2 separate regions of the Homo sapiens genome follow, and region 1 is linked to region 2. Evidence: fine-mapped expression QTL. A gene starts in region 2. The other region holds a variant in brackets. All regions are shown on one strand. Distances are from middle to middle. Region 1 has its middle 27 kb from the start of SEMA3C. Region 2 holds the start of SEMA3C (semaphorin 3C).

Evidence for each region. PIP is the estimated chance that this variant, and not a neighbour inherited with it, causes the effect.
Region 1: its variant is fine-mapped to the expression of SEMA3C in whole blood (TOPMed, PIP 0.98).

What each region holds. Positions count from the first base shown.
Region 1 is chr7:80,937,928-80,954,098 of GRCh38, forward strand. No RefSeq gene overlaps it. Among named protein-coding and RNA genes, the nearest start is that of SEMA3C, 27 kb to the left of the region's middle. The variant C/G (reference allele first, on the strand shown) is at 7,861.
Region 2 is chr7:80,910,785-80,926,955 of GRCh38, forward strand. It overlaps SEMA3C (semaphorin 3C), which reads right to left and starts at 8,267. Exons shown (of 18, transcript NM_006379.5): 1 at 8,044-8,267; 2 at 5,895-6,035. The coding sequence starts at 5,997. RefSeq lists an enhancer at 7,787-7,856 and a silencer at 8,404-8,533.

The sequences.
Region 1 (16,171 bases), 27 kb after region 2:
ACCTAGCCATCTTTATTTCTGCATGTAACATAAAAAATTAAAAGCAAATACATTAAAGAAGATAATTTATAATCATGTATTTTGGTTATAATTAATGTAATTTTATACAAATTATAAATAGATACTTTCCTTAAACCAAAAGATTTCTTTAATTTTTCTTCTCAGAGGAACCAGTATTATCTTCTCTAAAACAGTTTTCTACTTGATTAAACTAAAATCTGGTAAAACCACCTTTTATCTCTAAATAATCTGCAATATTTAGAATTCTAGAATTAGAAAGGATCTTTAAGATGATTTTGTCTAATTTATTCATTATACCTATAGAAACTGAGGCTCAGAATAGTTGGTGATTGTTAGGGAATCAAAATTAATAGGCAGCAGAATCTCAAAGAGAACCGGTACCTGTTGGTCACCAGACCAGGGCTCTTTCAGTTGTTACTTTATGTCCACCACACTTCTATACCTTAGAGAATCAGATTGCCATTCTTCATTGGTTCAGAGAACTGATATGAATGAGTACATGTAGCAAAAGCTATTGTCATTTATCATTGTACAGGAATTTGTGAAGTCCTGGCATTATAGAATGAGAAGCATCTAGGAGGCTAGCTAATCTAATGCATCTGTACCCTAATACTGTGTATGTAATGTATATTACATAGGCATATGTATATGATTAGCTAATCTAATGCATCTGTACCCTAATACTGTGTATGTTATGTATATTACATAGGCATATGTATATTACATATAAATTACATATGTTATGTATATGTAATTACATACATAATTACATTATGTATATTACATATGTTATGTATATTACATATGTATATGTGTGTACCTATGTAATATACATATATTACACATATATATATCTCTGTATGACTTTTTTATTCCCGTTTGTATACCATATATATTTTTTAATCTTGACTTTTTCATTAAATTCAAACTATAGAGTGCTTATCATGTAAAAGATGCTTGGCACTTTACATATATTACCTAATTTCATTTTCACAATAATCCTGAGAAGTTTTCTTATGCCCAATTATACACCGTGAAACAATGTTAAGAAAAAGTTTCTGAAAGAGTGAACATTTCACTTCATATCCCACAGAGCGAGGATTCAAATTCAAGTCTGTCTTTCTCCACAATAGCTTGTATTGTTAACCATAATTTTCTCTGGCTTTTCACACTACTGTTCTTCAAAACTGCCATGCTTGTTCTCACTTTAGAGTCTTCAACCTAACGAGTCTATCTAGGAATGCTCTGCCTTCCATCCTGCCATGATTCACACCTTCTACAAATTGAGATCGCAGCTGACATATCAGTTCTTCAGAGAGTTGTTTCTTGTTCATTTTTTTATTCATCATCTATCTATATTACCTATTATCTATCTATCTATCTATCTATCTATCTATCTATCTTCTACTGTCCTTTCTCTCTACTAGAATGCAAATTTCATAAATGTGTTTCCTTTACCACTATAATATCCATTAGTCCAATACCTGGCATGGATTAGCTCTTGAAAAGTATGACTTGAATTAATTAATTGATTTACACAATTTACATACAGACTGTCCAGCATTTTCTACTTTGTTATCATCTTATCATAGGTGTCAACAATTTAAAAAAAAATAATTTTTTCAGTTATAGCATATTATTTAGTTCAGGGGATGCATTATAATTTATTTAATCTTGCTCTATTTCTAAATTTTTAAAATATTTGCTTTCAACTTTTTGTTACTCTACGTTAAAGTTTCTCAACTGTGCACTACTGACATGTTGGTCCAAAACGTTTTTGTTGTTGAAGGGGGGTGTGAGACTATTCTGTGCACTGTGGGTTGTATAGCAACATTTCTAGTCTTTTTTTTTTTTTTTCGAGACAGAGTCTCGCACTGTCGCCCAGGCTCGAGTGCAGTGGGCCGATCTCGGCTCACTGCAAGCTCCGCCTCCCGGGTTCACGCCATTCTCCTGCCTCAGCCTCCCGAGTAGCTGGGACTACAGGCACCCGCCACCACGCCAGGCTAATTTTTTTTTTTTTGTATTTTTAGTAGAGACGGGGTTTCACCGTGTTAGCCAGGATGGTCCCAATCTCCTGACCTCGTGATCCGCCCACCTCGGCCTCCCAAAGTGCTGGGATTACAGGCGTGAGCCGCCGCGCCCGGCCAACATTTCTAGTCTTTATGCACTAGCTGCTAGTAACTTCCCATCCCTGAGCTGTGAAAACAAAAAATGTCTCTAGATATGGCCAAATGTCCATTAGGGAACAAAATCACCCCCAGTTGGGGACCACATCTCTAAATTATGCTGCAATAAATACCTTTAGGTGTAAGGTTCTTTCCATATTTAAAGGTATTTCTAAGGGTTAAAATCTCAGACTCATTTTATAGATGGAAAATCAGAGGCTTAAAGAGTAAATTACTTTGCCTAAGGCTATACACTTGTGAGGTAGAAAAGTTGGAATTTTATCCTCAGTCAGTATGAAGTCAGGGCCTTGTGTTTCAGCACTATGTTTCAGGACCCCTAAATAAAGGTCCCATATACTATGGTGCCAGACAATAGTATCTCAATTCTTGATTCCCCCTTTACCCTATTTCCCCTCCTTTCTTTAAGGATTTCTTTGCTCCATCCTGCCTTCCAGTAACCTTTCATTTTTATCTCTCTTGGAGATTCATCTTTTCCCTGTCTCCTCATTTTACTCACCCCTCCCTTTGTTGTAGGTTTAGTACAAGCTGACCCTGAGCCAAGGATGTATGTGTAACCAATTTATTAAGGAAATTCCTCTAGGGCATGCAGGTTAGGGAGTTGGAAAAAGCAGAAGAAAGAAGGGAAGTAAGCCAAGCAATAGTGCAGGTGCAGAGGCATGCATCCTGTAGAGAAGAACTTTAGCCTGACTTTTCAGGGAGCTCTGGAGTGTGTGTCACACCTTAGAGTTGCCCCAACTAGAGGCAAGAGAGCTGTTTTCATAGCATCATACACTCTTGTGTCATTGTTATAGGATAGGAGAGAGAATATACACGAAACATTTAACATCCCTCCCTCCACACACAGAAATAACAAAAAAGGATAATAAGGGATTTGTGAAGAGCTCCCATATTGCTCACCACATACTTCTCAGTTATTGTGTTATCGCCACCATGAAATTTGCCATCTGCTGTTTTCTGTTGCTGTAACTGCTCTGCTAGGTCCCAGCTAATAAATAAGGAACACTGAAGCTGAATATAAATAATGGTTCTGGGAACCAAAGTTCTGAGACAGTCTCCTTATAGACCTCTTCGGTTTTTAACCCAAAAGGAAAAAAATGCAGGGTGCTCATGTGTGTGGAAATTCATTAACACTTTAAGAGATCTCTGGATCAAAAGTAACCTCTTAGGGAATGTGCATTTCAAGGCCCTGTCTTACCCCAAACTGGAATTTTTGGCCCGAGGAAAATAGCAAATTATCTCACTTAGGGACAGCTGGTGTCCTCACGGAGGTTTAAATTTAACTTAGCAGCTAGAAGCTAGTCATCTTTAGATTCAGAAATACGAATTCATTGCAATAAGGAGTTCACCAAGGGCAGGCCGAAAGGACAAAGCAAAGACAAGTACAGTCTTATTTCAGTGCCATAAAGGAATTGTCATATGAGCCTTGACACACAAATTCCACAACTGAAGATCATGCAACTATTGCCCAATAAATTTAAACAGAGTGATTGCACTTAGCCTTAATTGTCCAGTTTCTGTTTTTGAAAAAAAGGCAATGAGTAACACAATGTTTCATAACCAGGAAAGAAGTTTTTGAATTTCTTTATATCACAGATAGTGAACACAATCTAAAAATAAATATTAAATAATCAAAATCCCAATGTAAAATATATATCTATCTGTATATATTATCACATGGAGGGAAAATTTGCACCACTAATATAAATGCTATTTATTAGGCATTGCTTTTCTATAGATTTTCATCCACTCTTTCATTCTTCTGCTCTATTCCTTGGTCACCTTCCTTCCATCTCTTTTCTTTCCCCTTTTTTCCATCTTCAATTTAGTGTTTGTTTCTTAAGAAACAAGTTTACATATTTCTTAGTTCTCTGTCAACAGAACCTTTCTCACTTTTCAACTGCAAAAATCAAGGTATTTTTCTAAAGAATCCATCAAAATAGGAGTTCTAATGTCCACTGATTAAATAATAATTCTTCGCAAGGTGCTTCAAATGCATTGACATATTTGAGAAAGCTATTGCAGACAGATAGCAAATTTATTCCCCTCTTAATATGTTAGTACTAACAAACAACTCAAGTCAGTTTGTACAATCAGATTGCTATTTAGAAGTTTCAGTTCTAACTAAAAGGCTGTTTTTCATCTTCACCAAACACTGGCTAGTCAGCAACTCCTGCCAGCATTCTCATAGCTGCCCCAGACAGCCAGTTGCAGGAACTCTGGCTGAGTCATGTCTCTGCTCAGCTACTCAGTAATGAAATATCCCTAGGGACATTCCTAAGACATGTCAGAGATGTGTTTCTAGTCTCCACCTATTTCTTTGTCGTGCCCCAAGCTGTGCCCACATTAGTGGAATTTCCAGTGCATTGCCATGCTCAGTAGGCCAAAGAGAAAAGTCTGCAGAATTGCTACTTAATATTACTTAATAAATCAGTAACAGAAGCAATGAATGGAATGGAATGCAAAATTCTTGGCTCTTAGCCTTAGATAGAACCACTTCCTTCCTATGAGCAAATAGTGGTTCATAGGTTAGCTTGGGGAGGGCTACTTCAAAGGGATAGTGTCTAAGTAGTCAATTTTGCTTGAATAAATTATGGAAAATACAGTTTTCAAGAGGAGAGGCTATGCTACTTTTTTCCCTTTTGGAATACTGGGTATATCCTAGGTAATAGAGAGTCAGTGAACAAATCTTTGCTGATGCTAATAGTTAAACAAAATGATTCAAATAGTTACTGAGCAAACATTTGCTGATTAAATAACATAATGATTCATATATGAAATGCGTTAGTTAGGTTCTACATATACTGTATCATTTCCTTTCAACCAGTATTTTCTATTTGTCCCAGAATAGCCTCCAAAAGAAAATTGCTGCTGGCAATTTAAAAAGACAACCATCTAAAAAAAAGTAACAAGTTGACCGGGCGCCGTGGCTCACGCCTGTAATCCCAGCACTTTGAGAGGCCGAGGCGGGCAGATCACGAGGTCAGGAGATCGAGACCATCCTGGCTAACGCTGTGAAACCCTGTCTCTACTAAAAAAATATAAAAAATTAGCCAGAGCGAGACTCTGTCTCAAAAAAAAAAAAAAGTAACAGACGGTAGAGGCAGTCAAATGTAGAGAACGCAGAAGCAACTCTTCTTTTAGTCCCTATTTATTAATAACCCTTTCTGGACCAAAACAAAAGAACAGTAATGGACAAATTTTCTTGCAGATTCAAGAAAACTGCTTCATATCACTATTATCTAATTATCTTCATCAAGTTGCCACACTACTGTTCTAAAATGTCTCTTTGATCCAAGCACTCCATGTGCTCCCCACTGTCAATGTCCCAATGCTACAGAATCTGCTTCCTTCCAACCTTTTACCTGCTACCCACTGGGTTGATGCTCCTGGACTCATGACCAGATCTTATCTTCACATATGGCAAACATCGCTGTTGGATAAACACTTTCTGCAGAGATTTCCTTTTGAGACATGTATCTAGGTGGCCATGGGTTGCAAAAATTGGTGAAAAAGTTAAAATCTATTTGCTCTACTAACTGTGGTCAATTGCTGATGTAATAAATAACATAATGATTCATATATGAAATGTGTTAATTAGGTTCTACAATACTGTATCATATCCTTTGAACGAATATTCTTTTTTAGTCCCAGGATAGCCTCCAAAAGAAAATTGCTGCTGGCAATTTGAAATAACAGGCATCTTAGAAAAATAACAAGTTAATAAATATAATAAAGAGATGGTAGAGGCAGTCAATGTAGAGAATGCAGAAGCAACTCTCCTTTTAGTCCGTATTTTATTAATAGTCCCTTCTGGACCAAAACAAAAGAACAGTAATGGACAAATTTGCTTGCAGATTCAAGAAAAGTTAATTAATCCTTAATCCTTAATTTAGTTCATGCTTCAAAATACCGACAATGTTTCTTTTCAAAAAAAAAAAACCAATCTGAACAATCTGAGTATTCCACTTCCCTATTTAAATCTTGCACAGTTCCCTATTTTACAGAGGATAAAAGGTAAACTTACCATGGTAAAATGGCTTTCCAATGGGACCTTAACCAGTCCCTTCCTCTGCCTGTCTCATTATGGGATCCAGTCTCGATGGGCTCTAAATCACTCATTGTTCTCAACACGTGGCTCCCTCTCAAGCATCTATGTCTTTGCATTTGCTCTTCCCTTTACCTAGTATAACTTTCTCTCACGCACTGCCACTTTTTCTCAGTTGCAGGATTTGTCTGAATGGGGACTATGAAGATATTTTTATTTTACTTGTTTTGTATAGTCCACTGAACTCTGAGCTCTTTGAAGACAAAAATCATAATTTATTTATTTTGTTAACATTGAATGTAAAGTGTAAGCAAAAGTCATTGAGGACCCTAAGCAAATTGGCATCAAGGAGGAAACAGAATGGACACTTAAGAAAGAGCATTACAGGACCTTACAACTGCTAGTTAAGTATTGGCTAGAGTATTAAAGAGAAACATGTCCTGCTACCCCAGCTTACCAAATGGGCATCACTTTTTCAGTCTGCTGAGATGCGATGACAGTCGCAGACCCACCTGGGGATATCCTGGCTATTAATTATACTTAGTGCAGAGTTCAAAAAGGACTCAGAACCATCAGGCGATTAAAGGATGTAGATTATGGATATAATTTTAGAAGAAAACAAAGCCACTTGAGTCATTCTCCTAATAAAGCAAATTCTGTTAGAAGGGGTAACACATTAAGCAGCATGTTGGTATGTACTTATGTACGTATGTATGTATGTATGTATGTATTTATTTGAGATGGAGTCTCGCTCTGTCACCCAGGCTGGAGTGCAGTGGCGCAATCTCGGCTCACTGCAAGCTCCGCCTCCCGGGTTCATGCCATTCTCCTGCCTCAGCCTCACGAGCAGCTGGGACTACAGGCGCCCGCCACCACGCCCGGCTAATTTTTTGTATTTTTAGTAGAGACGGGGTTTCACCGTGTTAGCCAGGATGGTCTCCATCTCCTGACCTCATGATCCTCCCACCTTGGCCTCCTAAAGTGCTGGGATTACAGGCATGAGCCACTGCGCCCGGCCTATTTATTATTTCTTTAACAAATGTTTATTTATGACGTTCTCTGTGTAAAATATTGTAGTAGGTAGAGGTGACAACAGATTGATATAATCTTTTATGGAGCTTACATTCTGAAGACAAAGAAAAACAATAAATAACAAACATGTAATAACATAAATTACAAATAATAGGTTGATTATTTAATTATAATCTGAGACTTGGGGTGAAAAAAGCATAGAATGGAGAAATATAATCTAAACTTTGGGGTCAGGCAAATTCCTATGGGGAAATGATATTTATGATATGAGGATGGAAGGTGTTACTAAGGTGAAGAGGGGATGGTAGAGAATTCCCGGGGTTTAGGGTATAACCTGTGCAAATGCCCCATGGTTGCATGGTGTAGAATACATTCAAGGAAGAATTTTGAAAACGTTGAATTCATTAGATTTTCTGGCTACAGAATTATAGCTTGGATATGAATAATGCTGATGTGAGGAGTCCGGTTAGCATGTGAGAAGTGAAAATATTTGAAATACATTGGCATAAAATTAACAGGACTTGATGCTAGATTGGATATCAAATTTAAATGAGAACTAGGGAGATGTTGAAGCCC[C/G]TCTCTGCCAATGGAACACAGGAGAGGGCCGTGAGAATATCATACTTTCAGTTCTAGAGACACTAAATGTGATGTAGCTATGGGATGTCTGGGTAGAGCTGTCAAATGGGCAGGTGGTTATCAGTGTGGAGCTCAGATGACAGTTATAGTACTGAGGCTTCTATTTTAGAGTCTTCCATATATATAGGGTAAATGAAATCATTGGAGAAGACAATAAAGCCCAGGTAAAATATGTGGAGTGGTAAGGGAAGAAGGCCTAGGAGAGAGCCCTGAGGAATTCCGACATTTAAAAGTTTAATAAAGCAGAAGTGTCAGCTAGTCAGACTGAAAGTGAGTGTGAAGTCATTTGCCAGCTGGAACAGTTAGCAAGCTAGAGATTTTAAAAGACAAAGTACTTTTGCAAAGAGAAAATTATCCAAGCAAAAGGATTGGATAATTTCTTGGCAATAAAAGTTTTCGAAGGTCCAACAAGTCTTTTTTTCACATTCAAGTAATGTAAGTAAAGTTTAGAAAAAATTATTAGTAGATATCTAATAGTTGTAAAATTGAGATTGGTTCAAATGCAACAAAATCTAATATGGATGGATATTGTATGATTTTTTTTTTTCTGACTAGAAGCAAAAACATTTGCCTAGTGAATTGTTCATATGAATAATATTGTATTATTGGAAAAGTAATGTAAAAATAAGTGCCTAAGATCATCTGATAAATTTAAAAAGTTAGAAAGTGAGCCTTGGAATAAAAAAAGCAATTTATCCCCAGGATAAAATCTCTCAGCTAAAAATCAAATATCTATGCGAAACATCAACATTTTGACACTCTCCATTGTCTTTAATTTTGTTGTAGCAAATATCTAAAATCATCTCATTTACCTAAAAATGAGTTGGCATTTAAATTTGCCTTCCTATAATCTTCTTCTGAGAGCATCGTGATGTGTGGTCTTGGAACTCCCTGCAAGAGCAGTGAGCTGATGTTGGTAAGCATGTGTAAAGCAAATTTTATTTTATACAAAATTAACATGTGACGAAGCACAGGCCAGAATTTTAAAAAATATTTTTATATCAGAATTTAATTATGTATTTTAGAAAGTAGCTTACTAAAATCCAATTTTCAACCCAGTGAATTACTTTACAATAAAAAAAATACTCTTTGAGAATTAAATTTTCCTTTGTGGAAACAAGTCAAATGGCCTGAAGGTGTGGCATTGTCATTACTGTCTATTAGTACCATAGGAAAAGAGATTTAGACTGGAAAGTAAACTTGGCATTCATAAATCACTCTACAGCAAAATCAAATATCTTGGACTTCTGGAAAGCATTTGCAGTAATTCTTGAAACAGAGCACAATACAAGATCAGGGCAGACAGGACAAATGAATTTTCCCCAAGTCAACAGTTAAGAGGGCTTCTGAAATATTCAAGCAATGGGAAAAGACAACATTTGCTCTCAGAATCATGATTATATTATTGTTAAACCTTTCGGCCGGGCACAGTGGCTCACACCTGTAATCCCAGCACTTTGGGAGGCCGAGGTGGGCAGCTCACGAGGTCAGAAGTTCGAGACCAGCCTGGCCAACACGGTGAAACCCTGTCTCCACTAAAAATACAAAGAATGAGCCGAACATAGTGGCACACTCCTGTAATCCCAGCTACTTGGAAGGCTGAGGCAGGAGAATTGCTTGAACCCTGGAGGTGGAGGTTGCGGTGAGCGGAGATCATACCATTGCACTCCAGCCTGGTGACAGAGTGAGACTCCGTCTCAAAAAACAAAGCAAAACAAACAAACAAAAAACAAACAAACCTTTCATATTATAGTACATGGTTTAAATACTGGAGAGCCAGGGTGTTCCAGAAATTGACTTCTCTTCTAGAAGAATTAGCACGTGATGTATACTTAGAAGAATGGGGATTTCTATAGCCAGAGAATGACAGTAAGGCTGTACTGTCTGATAAAAGACATAAAGGATCATATAAAAATGAATGTGGATTGGAGGAAGCAGTTAGTATTACGGTCTGCCTAGAGCATTGGGTACCTAAAAGGAAGTATCAAGTAGGTAGGGTGAAATAGCAGCACAGGAGACATCTGTTGTTTGGCTTGTCTAACATTGACAGTGTCTAACATTTCCCCTCCTTCTGAGAAAAGCCATTGCTTCTTTCAATGGACTGCTTCCCATTTCACTCCAAATACATGGTTTTATTTGGGGCTGCCAAATATGATATGTCACCTAACTCTCAATCCCATCCGTCCTTACCATGAGAATGGGCAGGTGGCCCTTGCTCGGCTAATAGGAATTCTTCTCTAGGACTTTTGTTTTTAAATTGAAACAAAGGGCAGCCACTTGTCTTTTCTGCAGTTTGCTCATTGGAATAGAATAGTCTCCTCTTCCCTGCAACACAAACACATCCATATCTTAATCCATGAAGTCTGTGAATTTGTTAGGTTACATGGCAAGGGAAAAATAAGGTAGTAGATGTGATTAAGTTTGCTATTCTGCTCACTTTAAAACAGGGAGATTATCCTGGATTTAAAAAAAAGAAAAGAAAAGAAAAAAAACAAAGTAAAAAGAAAAGTGTTACCTTATTCCCATATTATCAAATGACTATTTGTACTCTAGAGGTTGTGCCATTTTTCTAGAGAAGCATCAGCTTTAAGACCCAACACAAAGGGCCTAACAGACACTTGTGCACAATTACACATATAAATTAATTCCATCAAAAAGAAAGACACACAAGCACACACACACACAGACACACACATGCATGGAGAGAGAGAAGAAGGCAGAAAGAATGGAAGAAAGAGAAGAATGGAAGAAGGGAGGAAGAAAGGAAGAGAGGGAGGGAGGAGAGAAGAAAGTTTCTGTGGTAGATTCCTACTTAGGACCAAAGACAGTCACTTTGATTATTCTTTCCAATACAATCCAATTTTACAATTAAGTTTGTTTTTTAAATTATTAATTCTGCATTAACATTCAACAATGATGATTATTCTGTTACTCTCTACTACTGTTATAAAGTTGGCTATATTCAGGCTGTTTTAATTGTTTTAATCTACCAATCTAACTGCAAACATTTTCCAAATAGATTAATTCACTCTCTTAACTTTTACATGTCTGCAGAAGTCTAATAAAATATATATAGTATTCTGTAAGTTGATTTCTTATTTTTTTAAAAAGGCATGAATTTGATCTTGTACTACTACTTTCCTGCTGCTCTCTTTGCTTTTCAAGCTTCTACTAACGGTGCTATTATCTGACTTTCTTTTGTAGATAAATTAATCCAATCATAAAATGTATTCAAATTATGATCCTTGAGAAAATTGCTTTCAACCCATCCAGCTTCTAGGGCCTTACATATTTGAGAAATTAGGAGGATTTATTAGAGCTCCTCTGCTTTATGGGTGGACTTGGTATTACTATAATATCTTTTCCTGTATTTTGGGTGACTTTTCACTCACAGCCGTGTGTATATGTGTGTGTGTGTGTGTGTGTGTGTGTTAAGAGACACAAAGACAGAGGCAGAGAAGGACAGAGAGAGATTAAATGGAGAATATCCTTTCTTTCATACTAAAGCAGTTGTTTCATATTCTTAATTTTAGAGCAACATGGCCGATGCTTACATTATCCACTTGGGTAGGAACCTCAAACCTGCATACGTACCTGCAGAATCTGAAGCAATCTAATGACTTCCACAGTGATTTCTGGGAATGTCCTCACCTACATGGTTCTAGCACCCCCTCCCTTTATGTACAATAGGCACAGCAAATGGTAATTTAGAGAATACATTACTTAAGAAGAGAAATTGCCTCTCAATCTGAAAGACATCATTTAAGCAACACAACGAAGGAGTAACTCAATGAGTGCTACTCATTTTTTGATTGGCAGTAGGCTGTCAGATCTGTATAGGCAAGGTTCCTCAAGAATAACCTATAATTTAGCCTTCTCCTCTAATAATAAATGGTTCAGTTTCCCTGTATCTCTACTTTCTAAAAACATTCTTCTACCCAAACCATGCATAAAGCTCATGTAATGGCAGTGTCAAAACATTAGACCATTGAACTCAGGAACCTTGAGAAACTATATGGTCTTCCAGTAATTTAGAATTTTAGTTTCCCATTCTCCTTCGCATCTTGTACTTCCTTGCTCAGATTTTCTTCCTTTGGTCTTCTTGTTAATACAGGCATCAATATACCATGTTTTCTTAGTCCTGAGACATAAGCTTTATATTTTTAAATATTTATTAATTTGGGATGCATAGTATAATCAATATGACATTTACATAGTACATATTTTTCCTTGAATACTGTTCTCAAGTCAAGGGTGTCTCTACAATGGAGAATATCTTAGAATTGAGGAAACGTGCTAATTAATGTCTAGCTGTTATAAGGATTAAATAAGTTAGTCTATGTAAAGAACTTAGAATAATACTTAGCAGATAAGAGTCACTCAAGTAATCTCAGGCATTATTATCATAAACATCATCATTATTACCTTAGGCAGAATAGTACATTTGTCAGGAGCATAGTTTCTGAAGCTAGACAGACCTGAGTTCAAATTTCACTCTGCTATTTATTACCTTGGGGGTCCTGGCATATTATATGAATTCTCTAAACCTTGGTTTTCTCTTATTAAAAATGAAGACTGACATTTGAAAAAGTAGTGAGACTGAATGAGAACAGCAGTTTTTACAAGCTTAGCGTAGTACTTGGATCAGAGCAAAATCTTAGTTGAGGAACTATCGATTGCTTCCAATTAGCTGTAGCCAATTATTAGAGCATTTATCTCTCTGAATCCTAGGCTATGCTCACAGGACTGGCTTTTGCCACTAGGTATTTTCAGGAATGAAGAAACAAGAACGAGCTGAATGTATCTGGATGTGTCTGGTCCTGGCTTGCAGCCCTTTTCTTAAATCCAGTATCACTACTTGTGGTTTTAAACTTGATGACATCTCTGGGCCTAAAATGATAGATGATCACAACTTTGTTGCTGCTGTGGTTTAGAGAAAGGGATAAAAACCATGATAGGACATCCTGATGGTGACCTTGGGCACGAGTTTTAGCAGAGTCATGCAGTGACCCTTTGGTGTCCCTCTGTGTAGAGGTCTCAGTTTGGTGTGTGATTCCAAGTGTTTCTATTACTGTCACATAATTGGCAGGTGGTGTAGGGGAAATTGTGGGGGAAGTTACTAGCATACAGAGCAGACTTGTACTGGCCTTGTAGAAATGATTGTTAAATTTTCAGGAGTTTTGCAAGCCAGTTATTAAATACAATCATTATTAAAATTAAATTATATAAATTTACAATTAATTATATTAAAAGCAAAGGTAATGTAAATCCCAAACTCCTCACTTCCTAATTATTCTACTATGTATTACTATAGCCTATGCTTTTGTGACTATTTAAATCTATTGTCTCCATATAGTGAAAATGCCCTCCAATGGTGTGCTACTGAGTGTAGCTTTTCAACTCTGTTCATTGATAGCATGTCCATAGCTTTAAATCAGCAATGGTGGGAGTATATACTACAAAATAGAAATCTATCTCCCTGAGCTGGTTCTTAAACATGTACCAGTAAACCACTTGAATTAGAATAGAGTTGGGTACATTGGACTATAGTGGAAATGGTTTTTAAGCAGTTATTTACTAGATTTCCCTGAATGCATTTGATGTCAAAGTAGTGACAGGTTTAAAACTGTGTGTTTGTGAGTATATGTATGTGAGTATGTCTTTCTGTTTTTACAAGACAAACTACTGAGTTTAGGGTGAGGACAGGTCATGTTCAGTAGGACATGATTCTCAACTATTCAGTATTTTGATAGCCATTTACTAAATGTTACTAAACAGTTAGTAAACTATTGGCATGCCAACAGTTGAAATTGTCTATGATGTGAGAATATTTGTACTACAATTTAAAGTGAATTTTGTTTCTTAAGAATTGGTTTATCAATACTCTGCCTAAAATCCTTATCTTTGCCCAAAGCTCCAACAAAATATTACCTGATTTATCATTGTATTTAGTAATTTTGGGGTTGTTCTTATTCAACTCTTTTTTTTTAAATTATACTTTAAGTTCTAGGGTACATGTGCACAACGTGCAGGTTTGTTACATATGTATACATGAGCCACGTTGGTTTGCTGCACCCATTAACTTGTCATTTACATTAGGTATCTCTCCTAATGCTATCCCTCCCCAAGACAGGTCCCAGTGTGTGATGTTTCCCACCTTGTGTCCAAGTGTTCTCATTCTTCAAGTCCCACATGTGAGTGAGAACATGTGATATTTGGTTTTCTGTCCTTGTGATAGTTTACTCAGAATGATGGTTTCCAGCTTCATCCATGTCACTACAAAGGACATGAACTCATCCTTTTTTGTGGATGCATAGTATTCCATGGTGTATATGTGCCACATTTTCTTAATCCAGTCTATCATTGATGGACATTTGGGTTGGTTCCAAGTCTTTGCTATTGTGAATAGTGCCACAATTAACATACGTGTGGGTGTGTATTTATAGTAACAGGATTTATAATCCTTTGGGTATATACCAGTAATGGGATGGCTGGGTCAAATGGTATTTCTAGTTCTAGACCCTTGAGGAATCACCACACTGTCTTCCACAATAGTTGAACTAGTTTACAGTCCCACCAACAGTGTAAAAGTGTTCCTATTTCTCCACATCCTCTCCAGCACCTGTTGTTTCCTGACTTTTTAATGAACGCCATTCTAACTGGCATGAGATGGTATCTCATTGTGGTTTTGATTTGCATTTCTCTGATGACCAGTGATGATGAGCATTTTTTCATGTGTCTGTTGGCTGCATAAATGACTTCTTTTGAGAAGTGTCTGTTCATATCCTTTGCCCACTTTTTGATGGGGTTGTTTGATTATTTTCTTGTAAATTTGTTTAAGTTCTTTGTAGATTCTGCATATTAGCCCTTTGTCAGATGGGTAAATTGCAAAAATTTTCTCCCATTCTGTAGGTTGCCTATTCATTTTGATGGTAGTTTCTTTTGCTGTGCAGAAGCTCTTTAGTTTAATTAGATCCCATTTGTCTATTTTGGCTTTTGTTGTCATTGCTTTTGTTGTTTTAGTCATGAAGTCCTTGTCCATGCCTGTGTCCTGAATGGTATTGCCTAGGTTTTCTTCTAGGGTTTTTATGGTTTTATAGACCAATGGAACAGAACAGAGGCCTCAGAAATAACACCACACATCTACAACCATCCGATCTTTGACAAACCTGACAAAAACAAGAAATGGGGAAAGGATTCCCTATTTAATAAATTGTGCTGGGAAAACTGGCTAGCCATATGTAGAAAGCTGAAACTGGATTCCTTCCTTACACCTTATACAAAAATTAATTCAAGATGTATTAAAGACTTATTCAACTCATATAATATTTAGTCTCATTCTGAGTGATACAGGGGTATACTTTCTGCTAAACTTTCAGAAAATGCAATAAAACTAAACACAGGCCAGGCGCGGTGGCTCACACCTGTAATCTCAGCACTTTGGGAGGCTGAGGCGGGCGGATCATGAGGTCAGGAGTTCGAGAGCAGCCTGGCCAATGTGGTGAAACTCCATGTCTACTAAAAATACAAAAATTAGTGAGGTGTGATGGTGTGCGCCTGTAGACCCAGTTACTGGGGAGGCTGAGGCAGAAGAATCGCTTGAACCCAGGAGGCGGAGGGTGCAGTGAGCCAAGATCATGCCACTGCCCTCCAGCCTGGGCAACCAGAGCGAGACTGTCTCAAAAAAAAAAAAACTAAACACAAAACAGTAAAATATGTTTTGACTCAATACATGTACTGTACACAAAGCAATTTTATATAGCTTTTCTGTTTCTAAAATGTTATTCTCTAAATTCCTCTAGCATTTATTTCATATGAATTCTGTCTGTTATCACGTACCCGAAAACATACGGGAATCGCTTTCATTTTGGTAATAGTTTTAGTCAATGAATATCTTTCTTCAGTAAGAGTCAAAAGGTACAATAAAATGTTTTTGCTCAATTTCTACACACTAATACTAAATCTGCATCTTATGGCACTTAAAACAGAACTCTTTACTTTCTAATATATATGCATAAATATCAAATTCTAGAAAATAATAAGTGCTCATAAATTGATAACTGGAAATTTTTGCTTCCTTTTATGTGTTTGGTTTGGGTAATTAATGGATGATTACATTAACTTGGGGGAATCTAAATTTCATTCATTCATGACCAGCCTAGATATGAAAACTAGCTTATCCTCCTTTAATTATTACTCATTTATCACACTCAATATGCTAAAATAAGTTATCACAGAAATATTGTTAACC
Region 2 (16,171 bases):
AAGAAAAAATTGAGTGTGTCTCGGTGCCATTTTTTTAATGCAATGAATGATATCCATGAAAAAGAACATCTGAATCTTTTGTTTTAAAAGACAGTGCAAGGTATAGTGAATTTATGGAGATACATCCTGATAAATTTGCATAATGAAATGAGGAGAGTGTATAATAATTTTTTTCTACTGTTATCCATCTAAGCACTGACTTGCTCGCATAGGCACAAAGGGAGATCTCAGTTACAGCAACAAAATAAACATGTTCCAGAGAGGTAATTCCCCTCATCTTCACCTTGATGAATCATAAATTAAAGGGGGAATTTGGGATGATATAGGGAATGAATTTTATTTCATTTTCAGGCAGGTTTGATGTTCTAAGAGCAATGTAAAATTCTAGCATGACATAGTTAACATGATATGTTTACAGAATATCTTACTGAGAAAAATTCTTTTCCTTTTTCCTTTCATTGTGATCTTTGTGGATCTTAAAACTAATTCTCATGGCAGCTACAGAAATGGCTGCCACAAAGTCAGTATTAATGTTAGTGTTTAATTGCCAAAACTATTTTAGAAACAAAGAAGACAAAAAGTAGTATACACCTAGGAAGAATGCGAAAATGTATAACTTTGGTTCTAGATATATCTTCTGAATCAAAATTGCAAATAAAGGCTAAGTAACATCGTTTTATCAATATATGTGAACAACATATCAACATATATGATCAACATGTGAACAAATTTAAAATAAGCTATCTAGGATCACTTGCACCATCTTCATTTGATAAAGAGTTCAATTTAGTAAACATGTTTAGGCATGTCTATTAATTCATAGAATAGGACCTTTTTTTTTTTTTTTGAAAGAGAGTCTCACTCTCTTGCTCAGGCTGGAGTACAATGGCTCAGGCTGGAGTACAATGGCACGACCTCGACTCACTGCAAGCTCTGCCTCCCGAGTTTATGCCATTCTCCTGCCTCAGCCTCCCGAGTAGCTAGGACTACAGGTGGCCACCACCATGCCTGGCTAATTTTTTGTATTTTTAGTAGAGACGGGGTATCACCACGATAGCCAGCATGATCTTGATCTCCTGACCTCGTGATCCACCCGCCTTGGCCTCCCAAAGTGCTAGGATTACAGGCGTGAGCCCCCGTGCTCGACCACATTTTTTTTTAATGGAACCGCTGTGTTCGTATGACCGATTAACAAAACACTCAAGCTCACTCTTCTAACTTCAGAACACTAAAGCATTCCTTCTTTGCTCCCAATTGTAGGAACCTTGTAACTCTGAATGGCTTAACACAGAATATCATTTATTGGCAACAGAATCAAGCTTATTATAATCTGATGAAACTCACCTGGAACAGTAATTACTTTTTTAAACAGGAAAATATAGGCTTACACATTTTTCTAAAATTTTTTCTCTAGGAGAAATCCACAGCATATCAATGTAACACCTTTTATCCTAAAATTTTCAAGAGATGTTCTTTGCAATACCTGAAATAAAATTTCCTCCCTCCAATTCAAGTCTACTAGAAATATTATTTTATTTTGATTACCAGAGCCCTATATCAATACATATTACAGGGGAAAATAGACATACGAGGCTACATTTCTTAGCAATTCTTCTCATCTTCCATTGCAATTGTATTTTATAACAGTTTTTACCTTGCTGCTTTACAAATTTAGTGTTACTCTATTCTAGACTCATGTTTCAGGTAATGTCCAACTCACAAGTGAATTCATCAATCCTTTGCTGAGTTCAATTAAACTCTCACAAGGGGGAGAGTAGAAGGAACTTTTTATTCACAGAGCACCCCTTGAGTTTGGGTTTACTAAAACACTCATGTGTGCTTCAAGATATTTCAGTGACATTTAATTGAAACCATCATAAGGAGACTTAAAAGAAAATGCCATAACACACACCTGAGAACTAAATACTTCTCAGTAACACAAACCTGAGAAGATTCAATACACCCAGAGTAAGCATCTTCCAAGATTAACGGAGAAATCAAGAACAACTGCTTTTATTTTCATTTCTTGGGCAACCACAACAAAAACTATTTCAACAAACGTGCCTTGTAATGCTAATGCTACCAGAGCTCATAAAGAGGCAATTTATTATTTTCAGTTTATTGTCCAATAACAATTCATCAGCTTTGGGGCTTAGTTCATTAGTTCACAGGGATTCTTTTATTTGTTGAGGGTGATTTTAAAAGATGTTTTATAAAATTCCATAGTCTTTCATTTACATACTATCAAAGACCTGGAGACTTTGGCAGCTTTATTACTAAAAATTCAGCACACACAAAAGGGAAAATGAATCACAAAGTAAATAAATAAAACAGGGCCAGGCGCAGTGGCTCACGCCTGTAATGTCAACAATTTGGGAGGCTGAGACAGGCGGATCACCTGAAGTCAGGAGTTCGAGACCAGCCGGGCCAACGTGGTGAAACCCTGTCTCTACTAAAAGTACAAAAATTAGCTGGGCATGGTGTCGCACACCTGTAATCCCAGCTACTCGGGAGGCTGAGGCAGGACAATTGCTTGAACCCAGGAGGTGGAGGTTGCAGTGAGCCAAGATCTCACCATTGCACTCCAGCCTGGGAGGCAGAGCGAGACTCTGTCTCAAAAAAAAGGAAAAGAAAAAACAGGTAATCCTATGCAAGTCTAGTGCTTAGTCATAAAATACCTATTTCCAATTCAAAACTCACACTCAGTTTTCTGTTTTTAAACCACTGTCATGCATATGCAAATGTAAATTCAGCCATGGGCTGCAAGATTGGCCAATATTAACTAAGGAAAAACTTATACTAAAAGCATTTGTGTGAACCTTATATTCACTTGCAAAGCTATTTGGCATAAAATAAGAGTTAGACCAATTACAAAAGAAAATATTAGAAGTCACAGGTCTCAACATAGAAGATTTAAGTAGCACAAATGTAACTAATTAATAACATCTGAAGTACATTCTCCCACAGGACTGATGACCATCTGGTTGACCTTGCCCTAGATCAACAGGGAAGGCAAACCTGTAAATCACTGTTTTACAAATGTTATTACTCCATTATTTCACCACAAGAAAAAGGGATGGAACATGAATGGGAGAAGAGACTCATTGCTCTACACACCTTGAAATTGCCTATGATGCTTATTGCACCGGAAGTAACACAAGACTGAGTGGTTTCTTCTCAAGTTCCACCCAGAGAGAGACAGGCAGAGGACCAAGTTACAGTGATGGAGAAGAATTCAAGACAAAAGAGCCAGTAGGTAAAGTAATTACGAGAGAATCTAAAGGTACTTAGAGATATAAAACAAGTAATGCAAATGACCTCTGTCTAATACAACTTGAAACTATCTGAATTTCTGCAAAACACCTTTCAGTTGCTGATTTTTTATTGGAAAACAGTAATAGAACTTTAGAAATACGAACTAGAAGTATATGCCACATGTATTTAAATATATACTCTTAAATACATTAACCCCATACAAAGCTCTATATTTTGATGTTGAGAATAAACTACTTTGGAGGAAACTTAAAAACCTACTTGGTACAATAGTCAATGAGTCATCATTTGACTAATGAGAAACTTTAAATAATAATAAATTTGAACAGGCATTTCAAGCAGGTACACTGTGAAATCTCCTAAGAAAACTGTATTGAACCAAGGTTTAAAATTTGTACATTTTGACAACTGTTTTCGCCTGATACTTTCCCTATAACTTGTCTATGTAGTTCATTGTAGGAATGTTTAAAATTATTGAGTTACCAATCGTGCAATTTTATTAGATGTATTCTCACTGTTGATACATCTCTTTTAAACAGTATTCAAAACAAGTGATTTTCTATCTCTCTGATTATTTGCTCTGTTTTTCTCTCACTTCCTAAGAGTACCAGTAATACACCTGAGAAGAACAAAATATCAGGAATTATAGAACTTTGAGATCAACAACTCATGTCATATTCTACATAAGTTACAAATCAAGGCAAGTCTTATTCTGCAAGAATCTGTTTTAAGTTTGAGTGCATTTAAAATATTAGGCATATATTATTTTAAATCCCATCATTACTTCTAGTCACTGTATAGCATAGCTGTCACTGTCTTACACAGTTCTGAAGTCTGGTTCTAAAAGATTATACTATGTAATTTCCTTCTGTAAAATATGAATTGCAATTGCTTTTTCAAATACAGAATTGGTTCATTATCTCTAGTAACACACTTTTTGTTGATATTTACATTAGTTTGGATTAATTTTCATGTAATGGAAAAGAAAGCAGGTAGAGACATCTAATCTATTAGGTCACTCCATCTCTATATATACTAGGAGAAATATAGAAAATAGAGGGGAAATTGCACTACTTCTTAATGCCCTTTCTCTTTTATTTGAAAACGTATTTCATAGTTCTAACTTGGGAGGAAAAGTGTGGGTAGTCTGTAAGATGCTTTAGTAATTAAGGGGCTAAAAAGGATACCTCAAAGGGTCTGTTTTTCCATTCTTCACAACTTAACTGCATAGCTATGGGTTTTAAGGGGAAATGCCTTGCATGGAGGCTAAGGAAGCAATTAGAAGCTCACACATTCTAAGTTCCAAATATGGCTCCTTCGGTGCTTATGACAACCTTGGGGAAAGCACTGGTGACTTAAAAAGAAAAAAAGGACAGCCATTTGACTGGCAAGTGTCAGTCATTCTGCTATTTGAAATTTGAGGCCAGGCGTGGTGGCTCACCTCGGGAGGCGGAGGCGGGCAGATCACAAGGTCAGGAGATCGAGACCATCCTGGCCAACATGGTGAAACTCCGTCTCTACTAAAAATACAAAAATTAGCTCGGTGTGGTGGCACGCACCTGTAATCCCAGCTACTGGGTAGGCTGAGGAAGGAGAATGGCTTGAACCTGGGAGGTGGAGACTGCAGTGAGCCGAGATCGTGTCACTGCACTCCAACCTGGTGACAGCGTGAGACACTGTCTCAAAAAAAAAAAAAAAAAAAGGAATTTGAGACAAAGTTTCAGAGACACTCTGCTATAGAAAGGTCTGAGAATATATTGTTTATCAAATGAAAGAAAAAGTACTTGCAATGACACTAAAGTTTATGCAGAGTTGAAAGAAGTAATAAAATTATAAATGACCTTGATTGGCAGGATGGTGTTCCTCATCCATGTCTTGCTCCATCTGTCCAATTAGTATGGGTTACTTGACTAACCAAATTCATTCATCTGTAAGTCCTTTGAACTATATACATTAAAGCTCATGCAAACCATTCCCTCAGAAGACCTTGCACCTTTTATGTATGTGAAAATCTGAAATCACACCCATTTCCCTAAGCTTCTGAGAACATTTGTATACAACAACCATCAAAAGCATATTTCCAATTATTCTTTTAGGTCCTTTTCAATTAATTAGGGGACTATGCCAATCTCAGGAAATCCTTGTGGAAAAAGAAGAAACACCATTAGAACAACACACGGAGTAACCAGTTTTGAGACTAATGCCCAAAAAATTAATTGGGAGAATTTTTTAGTAATTGAACCTGCATAGCTCTCTCTGCTGCTGAGGATTAGCACAAAGGGGCAATTTCTTAACATTACCAGGTGAACAGTAAGATCAAAGATGCTAGGCTTTGAGCTCGTGCCCATCTCCTCTGTGAGTACACAGGCAAGCACAGAAGAATTATTTTACAAAAAGCAGCATATATTATAAGCATTTTCATAAATACCTCAAATCCAACAGAGGATCTTTGTCTATTAACCAATCATTTAAAATAGCTATTGTCCTCCAAAACGCAGCCCAGTAAATATTTTTAAAATTAATATCCAGTAATATTTATACTCTTAATTTCTGAATCTGGATAAGGAAGATAACAAAACTTAAAATAACATTTTTCCCAGAGTGTTTATCAACTCTCTTACCATCAAATGTTAAATAAACTCTTGCTTGGGGCTGGGAAGATCCTTTCACACAGATAGAACAAATAAATACTCCAACCAACACGCAAATTGTCCGGAATGCCATTTCTTCAGATATGCAAGTTAATATCCAAGGGAAAATACCTTTAAGAGAGAGACAACATGTTTGTTATATCTCATTTCACATTTTAGGAGTAGGAAAAAACAGCAATCTAGACAAAACACCCTATTCACAAAAGAACCATCTGAACTTTTACAGTAATGCAAACAGTAGGAGGTGCTGTGTCTTTGCTTCTCAGATGTGAAAATGTGGATTTGATTCATTTGTGTCTGGAAGTCTTTGCAACAAGAGAAACTTTCATCTTCCAGCAAATTGATGCTACCATCAAAACAGAACAAAGCAGTGAAGAAAAACACTGATACCCAAAGGAAAGCCCAATATTTTAACGGATCTTCTCTCTAGAAATCCATTACATTAAAAAGACTTGAATAGAATTGAGCTAAAAGAATATTACTGGATGAGAACTCTTTCCCCCCACTAACGTAACAGCAGCAGCAAAATCTCACATGAGCATTCATGTGTACCTACTCACTTCAATAGTCATTAGCTCTTTTGGAGTAATTGTCTCTGGAAGTGGTGTTTCCTTACATAAATCTATGTGTGCTCAATCCTGGATCACTGAAGTCACTGGAATCAGTTATCTGCCATTTTATCCAGATGACCAACAGGCAGTTGTTAAATGATGCAGTTGAAGTAACCATGGACTAGTGCCAAATTCAAACCAATGACCTAGTGGTGAGCAATCCAGTGAGCCATGTATCCACCAATGCATATTTTAAATAAATCAACCAGAATGTGGGCTGTCAAAATTCCCAAAGATAAATCAAAGAGACAGGTGTCACTGCTTCAAACTATAGATATAAAATTGGTACATGCTATTAACTAATATCTGAATCCCAAGGAAGACCAGATAATGTGTTACCATAAACCTACAGGAGCTCTAGTGGCTACATCATGTAAAATAAACTCAGGACCATTAAAGAAACACAATCATTTTGCTTCTACCATAATTACACAATAAAGTGACCCAAGAGTCCAGTAAAGAAATTTATTTTTACAGGTTACAACAATGCTGATCTTCATTATTTGGCTTTTCAAATTAAAATTTCATAGTCAAAATTATTAAATTCTTTGTAAGAACCACTAACAACTGAAAAAGACAGCTTCATTAATACAGAATAAAAAGAATTAAATGGAATATGCAATTTTAAACAAAAATTGTAAGTAGATTTCCTAGGTGGTGCATATGTTATGAGAGTTAGAAATGAAATTGTACGCTTCTTTTACCACACAGATGGAGGAAACTCTAGAGATGTTTGTGTTGGTAATTTTCAAAAGAAACAGTTTCTTCCTGCTTCCACAACCTCTTCACCCTGTCATCCCTAAATTAACTTAGAAAGAAACTGATTTTATGGGTGACTTTCCCTCAGTAATTTACCCCTTGGTTCTGTTGACTTCATAGTTAAAGCCAAAAGAAAAAAACTATTAATATGCCTAACCTTTGTTATGTTTACTGAGCAAGTTGATATTATTTACACATTTTTTTTACATATTGGTATCTTACCTTATATGTTTCTCCCAAAAGTACATATACAACCAATTGCAAAGAATACTGGTGATACAATGGCAGGTGAAACGAAGATAGTCTACAGGGCAATTTGATTTACATCCCACCTAGTGATGAGGAGTGAAAGACTGAAAGCCAAGTGTCTTAAATACACCCCCGCCTCCCCAACAGTATCTTACAACTTCTTCCCTTTAACTCAGACACAGACGTTCCTCTTGGTGTTTTCACTTCTGCTGATCGCAAACTAACAACACATTAAGAAAAGAATTCTCTTATCTCCTCTGGAGCAATTTTGCCTTTGAAGGCACTGTAATACTCAACTTGAAACTCTCCGCAGGTGTCACCGCCTAAAGAAACAACTCGAGCAGGGCTCTCAGCAAGGGGAAAGCTTCCCTGACAAACCGCGTGTGTTCTTAAGAAAATGTCCAGGCTTGAGCATACCAATGTATGAAAAATCAATATACAGGCCAAAAAAGTTATACTTTGCTAAATCTGTAATGCGGAAAATGACCAATTTAGCTTACCGAGGTTGAAAGAAATCAGCACGGAAAAGTCATCAGTTTGCTACCGGGGTTGGATGCGCTTGTGTCTCCAGTCCTTTTCCCAGACGACCTTATTTTCTAGCACGTCGCAAAGGTGAAATTCTTTCTTCCCGGTCCTCTGAGTTTCTTTGTAAAGGAATCTCAGCGCTGCAGTGCCGCGGCACCCGGAGCTCTTCTCCGCGTCGCTCAATCAAGCACCTCGGAGTGAATGGAAAGTGGCCGGAGGCCGGGGGCGAGCGCTCTTGGTGTCCGATTACAGCGCCGCGGCGCGCGGCTCCGGCTGCCCCGGCGCGCCGCCCTGCAGGCTCGCATCACCACCGCGCAGCCCCGGCCGCATCTCCGCCAGCCGCGAGGCCCCACCCCGAGCGCGCCCGCGAGAGCCTGGCAGGGAGCCGCGGGGGCGGACCGGGCGGGGCCGACCCTTAGAGCTCGCGGCTGGCCAGACGCAAGAATGCGCGGCCGCAGGCTGGAGCCCTAGCTCCGCAACCCTGCTCCTTTCGCAGTCCGCGGCGGAGTGAGCAACTTGCTGGGTGCGCTCCACGGTTTTTGTTGCCGGCGGCTCTCGAAGACTTACACAGGCTTTGCCTGGCCGTAAATATCAAAGTGCAAAGCAGTTGTGGTTTTTTATTTTTGCCAGGGAAGGATCACTGCAGCCTTTTAAGGCAAAGAGATGCGTTTTTAAAAGGACGTGAGTTTTGTCCTTATTCTGCTGCGTTTTTTTTTTGTTTTTTGTTTTTTGTTTTTTGTTTTGTTTTTGGAGAGGGAATCTCACTCTGTCGCCAGGCTGGAGTGCAGTGCAGTGGTGTGATCATGGCTCACTGCAACCTCCGCCTCCCGGGTTCAAGCGATTCTCCTGCCTCAGCCTCCTGAATAGCTGGGACTACAGGCTCCCACCACCACGCCCAGCTAATTTTTGTATTTTTAGTAGAGACAGGGCCAGGATGGTCTGGATCTCTTGACCTAATGGTCCGCCCGCCTCAGCCGCCCAAAGTGCCGAGAGCCACCGCGCCGGGCCTCTGTTGCGTGTTTTCTAAAACAGGTCAAGATAAACGACAATCTTGTTGCACAAGTGTATCCTTTTAATGGGTATTGTTTCCTATTGAGTTTCCTTAATGCCCTGAAAGCAGTAATTCTGTTGACCCCTCCACGTTGACTCATATCCAGTACGTTGTCCCCAACCATACTCCCAAACATAATTACACGAAGAAATTATTTGACAATTCTATGTGGAGAGGCTGTTCTGAGTTATGCCAACAGATTGCCATAACCACACATCTACAGAAATACATCAGAGGTATTTTTCCAGCATTACTTTCAGGTACACTCGTTAAACTCTGGAACTGACTTTGATGTTTAAGTGAAAATTACTTCTCCGGACCACAATAAACTAGATGTTTAAACATCGGGAGAAATGAGCTTTGATCCCCATAAAACAAGCAGGCACTTGCTTAAAATCACTGTGGGGCACAGCCCAGCAGATGTCACTCTACAGAAGGAACGTGGAGTGTAATATCTCCACCTTATACCTGACAATTCACATAATGAAACAATCATTAAATTCTTATAAACTGTATCATAGAAAACCCCTCTGGGGGTGCAAAATCATTGTTCAGTGGGAAAGTTGAATGAAATCTCAGGTAGGAGGAAGAGGTGAGTGAGACACATCTTTCATGTGTCTGGGGCCCACCTCTTGTGTTCAGTAAACATACACGTGTCTCAGACTCACGCTGCATAGTCAAGGAACGAAGGATCAAGTCAAATAATGCAAATTTATGAGTTCAAAAATACTATTCCAGGGCTAATATTATCTCCAAACGTCAAAAAATTAATATAGTAACAACAGTTAAAATTATTTTTTGTGATGATGCGTGAGAAGATCCTTGACATAAATTTGTAATAAGGAATTTAACCCCCCAAAAACTGACAATATTAAAATCCAGATGTCAATGTGAATAAGCACTGTGCGTGCTTCTCTGAAATACTTCTGAAACTGAGTAAGATCCAGGTTATATACTCTCCACTATTATCCTCCTTCTGATATCTCATTCGGCATTTATATATTAAGCAGGGAGAAGAATAAATCATTAGAAAGATGAGTGTGTGGATTAAATTAATTTAGAAATGTGGAGCTGTTAGAAATTGATCAGCAAATTCACGTAAGATGGAATTCGTTTATACATTTTAAGTTTGAGAAAACCACGATAAAGAGTTGCAAGATGAAATGCATCTCAAACGGTGTATTTACAAAGGAGCTTAATTCCAAACTCAATTTACAAACACCAATGAATTAGCTCAATCTGTTACACATTCAGGGGTTTGGAGGCCTTGACAAATAGCTTAGATTTAATCACAGCCCATGAAATTTGTGCCGAAATTCCCTCAATATTGCTCAAATAAACCTCTTTTCAATGTGCTCCTGGGATTTAATGGTATTTGCTTAGCTCTGAGACGTTTACAGTTGGCCACACCTCAAAATGAATCATAAAAATACTGATAGGCTTTAGCCAAGATAGATTCAAGCGCAAGGACACAGTGCTCATGCTTGCCAGAGACTTAGGCCACAGAGTGGAATTTTAACAGTGGCACTAGAAGCCCCTAAGATTAATCTCTGCCCACATTTCCCCACACTGCTTAAAACACCTTGACAAAACAAGACTTGCCTAAGAAACATTTCTGGGCACTACCACTTTTTTAAGACTTCAGCTTTGACTGTCCTTACAAGTGGAAAACAACAGCTAATTGAGAACGCTGTTTTCGGTAAGGGGGACACTAAATGGATCTACAGGAGTAGTGGCACAACTAAATTTAGAGAGCACTAATTACAATGTTTGCACCCAGCAAAACGTTTCAGACGAGCGGCCAAACTAAAATACTTAGGATAACTTTTATTAAGACGTTTTAGAAATGGTGCAGTATCTTACACACTGAAGTGTCTCTGCCTGCCAAGGTGTAGTGGGCATATTTTTAATATTTTATGTTTTTGATGGTCCTGAGGAATGCTATTTAACTTAAAACTCTAGCACCGATGTTGAGTTACATACTTTTCTCCAGGAGTTTCTGCAGCTATACATTATCTTATTTCAAATTTAAAGAAAACAGATTTTTCCCTATTATACAGATGAGTCATGTAAATAAACTTTACCCTAACCAGAGAATATTAATCATTCAGAGGTTAAAAATTGTCTTATTATTTAGTCATAAAAACTGATATTTGTAATAGAAAATAGATTGTGTATTTGCGAGGTACTTTGCTTATTATCTGCATAGCATTCTTTAATGAAGTTACAATTTTCAATGAGAGAACGTTGAAGGTTTGCCCAAAGTCAAATGGGTAGTAAATATCAGAATAGGAAGAGAAACTCAAGCGTGATTGCCGTAATGTCTCAGGTTTTTCAATAAGTTTCAATACTTCCTCTTACCTTTTTTGCTTAACATTTTTCTCCTCTTTTCTACTTCCCTCTCTTTCTCCTTCACTCAACTTCCATATGCCATCCTTTTAAGTTTCCTGAACTGTATCTTTGGAAAGTCTCAACTTCCAATGGTTACTTACTTTATTTACATCAGCCTTACGTCTCCTTGGGTTACATTAGCAGCTCTGAGACCAAGCCGGTCAAACAGGTCTGGTCTAGAAATCTGTGTGTGAAACTGCTACCTGCACAGCAAATAGGCTTTAATATTTCCTCTATCAAATCATTTCTAATTTTTCAATAAGATGAGTGTATCTCTATTTTCATTCTTAATCTATTGCTAATCTGTATTGCTGACTGTTTTTTCTCTGTTGATATGTACCACTCTATGCTTCTCAAATTGTAGGGTTCTTGACATTAAACAAAATAAACTGGCAACAGTGGTTTGCTCTGGAGAGGAAAATTGGCTAGAAAGGTTTCATGGTTCACTCTGTTTTACATTTATAATTTTAAACGAGGTGAGTGTATAAGCTATTACAAAGTTCAAAGTTTAAGTCCTCAGTATTTCCTTAAACACCTTTAAACATATCAAGTATGTTAAGCGCAATATTTCGCAACTCAACCAAAATAAAAGCATATTGCCTCTAATGTTTATATATTACAATATTTCATGTAAAAGTAGAATAGTAAAGAATTTCAGTAGTAAGAATCCCTTAGTGAATTTACTTCCTTAGTACAAAAATGTCATGTGTGCATGACAAAGGTTGTAATAGAGTTATTATGATCATTCACATTTTCATCACAAGGACAAAATGTAAACTTTCTATTTGTTTTGCCTTCTTGGAATATTTCATGTGAAGCCTCAGTGAGGACAGAGTATATGTATTTGAGATTATATACAACTGCAGTTGCAGAGAATCCCACAGTTAATGTTTGCTAGTGGAGTATATGCACACCCATCCACAGTCACGTCTTGAGGAAAGCCAGCAGCTTTTATGAATCATATTGGATCTGAAGCTCTCTGTCTCTACACCTGGAAGACCAAAACCACTTCCCATATCTGTTCTCACAGGAGAGCCATAAGAGGCCTGCATAAGTGCCTCTGATTGTCAGACGCATGTAATGAGGCTCAAAAATAATAACCAGCTGGAGCAATGAATGCAGGACTGTTAGTTACGGCTAATTGACTCCCATCTACAGCCCTTCGAAATGGGCAAGGGCCTTTCCATGTAATCTTCAGATTTTACTATTGTTATCCTCTTCTTGGACTTTAAATGGTTGACTAGAAAGTGGAGTATTAAATTGTGCAAAGAACTTTCACATCCTAGCAGATGCATTCTCATAATGAAAGTCACATGAGAAATCCTGCTGTCTTCTCTAACAGTGATTTCCAGGAGGTAGAGGGGGCTGTGTAGGAAATTTGCAAAGAATCAACCACTTATTCAGTTTATTTGATTTATTTTTAGTCATGAGGCTTTGAAATTTTTTTCACTTTTAAGTTCAGGGGTACATGTGCAGGTTTGTTATATAGGTAAATTAATGTTAGAGGTGTTTGTTGTACAGGTTATTTCATCACCCAAGTACTAAGCTTAGTATCCATTAGTTGTTTTTCCTGATCCTCTCCCTCCCCACGTCCTCCCCTCTCTGATAGGCCCCAGTGTGTGTTGTTCCCCTCTATGTGTCCATGTGTTCTCATTATTTGTGGCATTTAATAACTTTAAAGAAGGATATAGAATTTTCATTATTCAACAAATATGACATAATTTAAGATATAAAGCTCTTGGAATATATTTCAATTAAATAGTTTTCCTTGATCAATTTTCTTCACTGCAATGGACTCGTTGAACTTTAGACCAGAGATGTACTAGAAGGAGCAACATGATTTAAAGGGCATGCATTATTAATAGACATTTGAGGAAGTGTATTTCTTTCATCTCCCTAACAGCCCTGAAAAAGAAGATATAAGTACCTCCATCATGCAAACAAGGAAGCCAGTCAGAAATTTGAGGTGCTTTCCCCTACTTTGGTCCCTAGGCAATAAATTCAGGTCTGCCTGTCCCACAGTCCATGTGTTTCCTGCTTTCTACCACCTCTTGGCAAACACATCTAATCAAAAGCTCAGTAAATAAGAAACGGGAGTGGAGACTTTTACTTTCCTCCTAGGCTCTTTAGGTCCTGAAGAAGGTTTTCTGTTTTACTTGGATGTTTATCACATTACATTTCAGATTTGAATGATAAATACAGACATTGTATCTTCACTCAAATTATAGACAGCTCGAGAGCAGAAACAGTGTCTAATTCTCCTTAGTATCCTTTAGAATACGAAGAACCAAGATGATTAATGAACAGCTTTGGCAGATAAATGGAGAAGGGGTTCAAGGAATATGGGTAGAAGCAAAGAGAGAATCAACAGCAAATTGACCACGTAAATGATTACACATTATAAAACAGAAAATCATACAAGTTATTTTATTACCCATCCAAGTACATTTATAGTTATATAAATTAAATCTATTCTCTTTAAATATCTAGTTTGTTACTCATGTAAATACAGTAAATGAAAACCCAGAAACAAATTTGCACAGTGGATTCAAGACTAAGTAACAGGAAGTTCATCAATATCAAGTGTAATTTTAAAATTAAAAGTCGCAGGTAACCTGTTTGCAAATTGTCACCAGGGTTACTGAAGTCTTTTGTTCATGTACTGAAGGATAAAGTTGCAGCTTATTTCCATGGCTCATACAGTCTCTTTCCACTGCTTGGGTCAAGGTTAATTCTTCACTCCTTCTCGCTCATTCCTTCCCCTGGCACCTTAAATTCTGTGTGTATCTGATGTCCTACCTGACCGTTGTTTGACTACACTATTCCTCCTCACACTTCCGTGGCTTTGCAAATGCTCCTCTATCTTTAATACATCCTCTCTATAGTATAATCCTTTTTTTTAATCCTAAGCAAAATTAATCAAGTCCTAGATGTCATATATAGAGTTGTAACTATATCAATTTTGATGTCAAATAAATTTACATGTAAATCACCAATTCCTAACCTACTAACTATATATGTTGGGTATTGTTTGATTTCCACTTCTAGTGTTGTTATTTGTAAAATGAGAATTAAAGCAACTACCTTTAGGTTTATTGGTTAAAAACTATAATGTGTTAGTTAAATACTACAATGTGTGTGAACACCTCTCTCACTTTTGTATTGTCTTAAGTTTTTCAGGTATATCATTTCATGTTACAATTATGTGAAAATTTTCTCCATTGACTCCCAACAGCTCCAGAGTAGGACATAGGAATCTTAGACATTGTAGCCAGCTAAAGCCAAGTCTTGCCACATGGTGACAGCTGAATAAATGGTTGATCAATTAATTAAACTGATCTTTTCTTTTAATGATGATTTGAGGACCTTGAAGATCCAAATATCTTATCGTCACTGAGACTGTGGCATTTCAACACATGTGATTTCTTATAGGATTCTTAAGTAATCACTTTCCAAGGTTCATAATTTTACTCCAAAGGTAATTATGTTTGTATTATCCCCTTTAGACCACATTTAAATTTTATTTTGAGTCTGTAAAAACTTTGGGAACATTTGAACTGGTTTGATTCTTGATAATCAGCTGCTACAGGAACAGGTGGTTTGGATTAATTCTTTTTTTTTTTTTTTTTTGAGACAGGGTCTTGCCTAGGCTGGAGGACACTGGTGTGATCATAGCTAACTTAAGTGCAGCCTCAACCTCTAGGGCTCAAGCAATTCTCCCACCTTAGCCTCCTGAGTAGCTAAGACTACAGGCATGCACCACCATGCCCAGGTATTTTTTGTGAGACAGTGTCTCCTCATGTTGCTCAGGCTGGTGTCCAACTCCTGCTGGGCTCAAGTGATCCTCTTGCCTATGCCTTCCAAAGTTCTGAGATTACAGGCACCAGCCACCGTGCCCAGCCTTAAATTCTCTTTTAAGTTTTAAAAATTAAGATTCAGAAATTACGTTTTTAATTTTCTGGTAACAGATTAGAATAAGATTCCCTCAAGATCGTATCACAGTAAAAATAAAAAGAAAATATGATTACAAAGAAACTAGTAGCAATTCCTGGCATAGAAAGGAAAAAAGTTTTCTAGTACATAAATTCAATATAAATTTATTTTTTCTCATGTTTCATTGTGGATTTCTTCTACTAAAGTCTCAATTTAAGGCAACAAAAACATAATTCTTTAAAACCTAAATTACCTAATTGTATTTTTATATTTTCATCTATTCTGTAAGTTTCCAGCTCAAGTTTTTTCTTTATTTTTTAGGTAGATAGCATTTAAAATAATCCATATATAAGAATCTGGAGTTACCTAATGCATATATAATAACATTGTGTTCAGAATTGGTTCCTTCTAGTGGGTTCTCGGTCTCACTGACTTCAAGAATGAAGCTGCGGACCCTCACAATGAGTGTTACAGTTCTTAAAGATGGTGTGCCCGGAGTTTGTTCCTTCAGATGTTCAGATGTGTCCAGAGTTTCTTCCTTCTGGTGGGTTTGTGGTCTTGCTGACTTTAGGAGTGAAGCTGCAGACCTTCTCAGTGAGTGTTACAGCTCTTAAAGATGGCACATCCAGAATTATTTGTTCCTCCTGGTGGGTTCGTGGTTATGAAGATCTTCACAGCTCATAAAGGTACTGTGGATCCAAAGAGTGAGCAGCAGCAAGATTTATTGC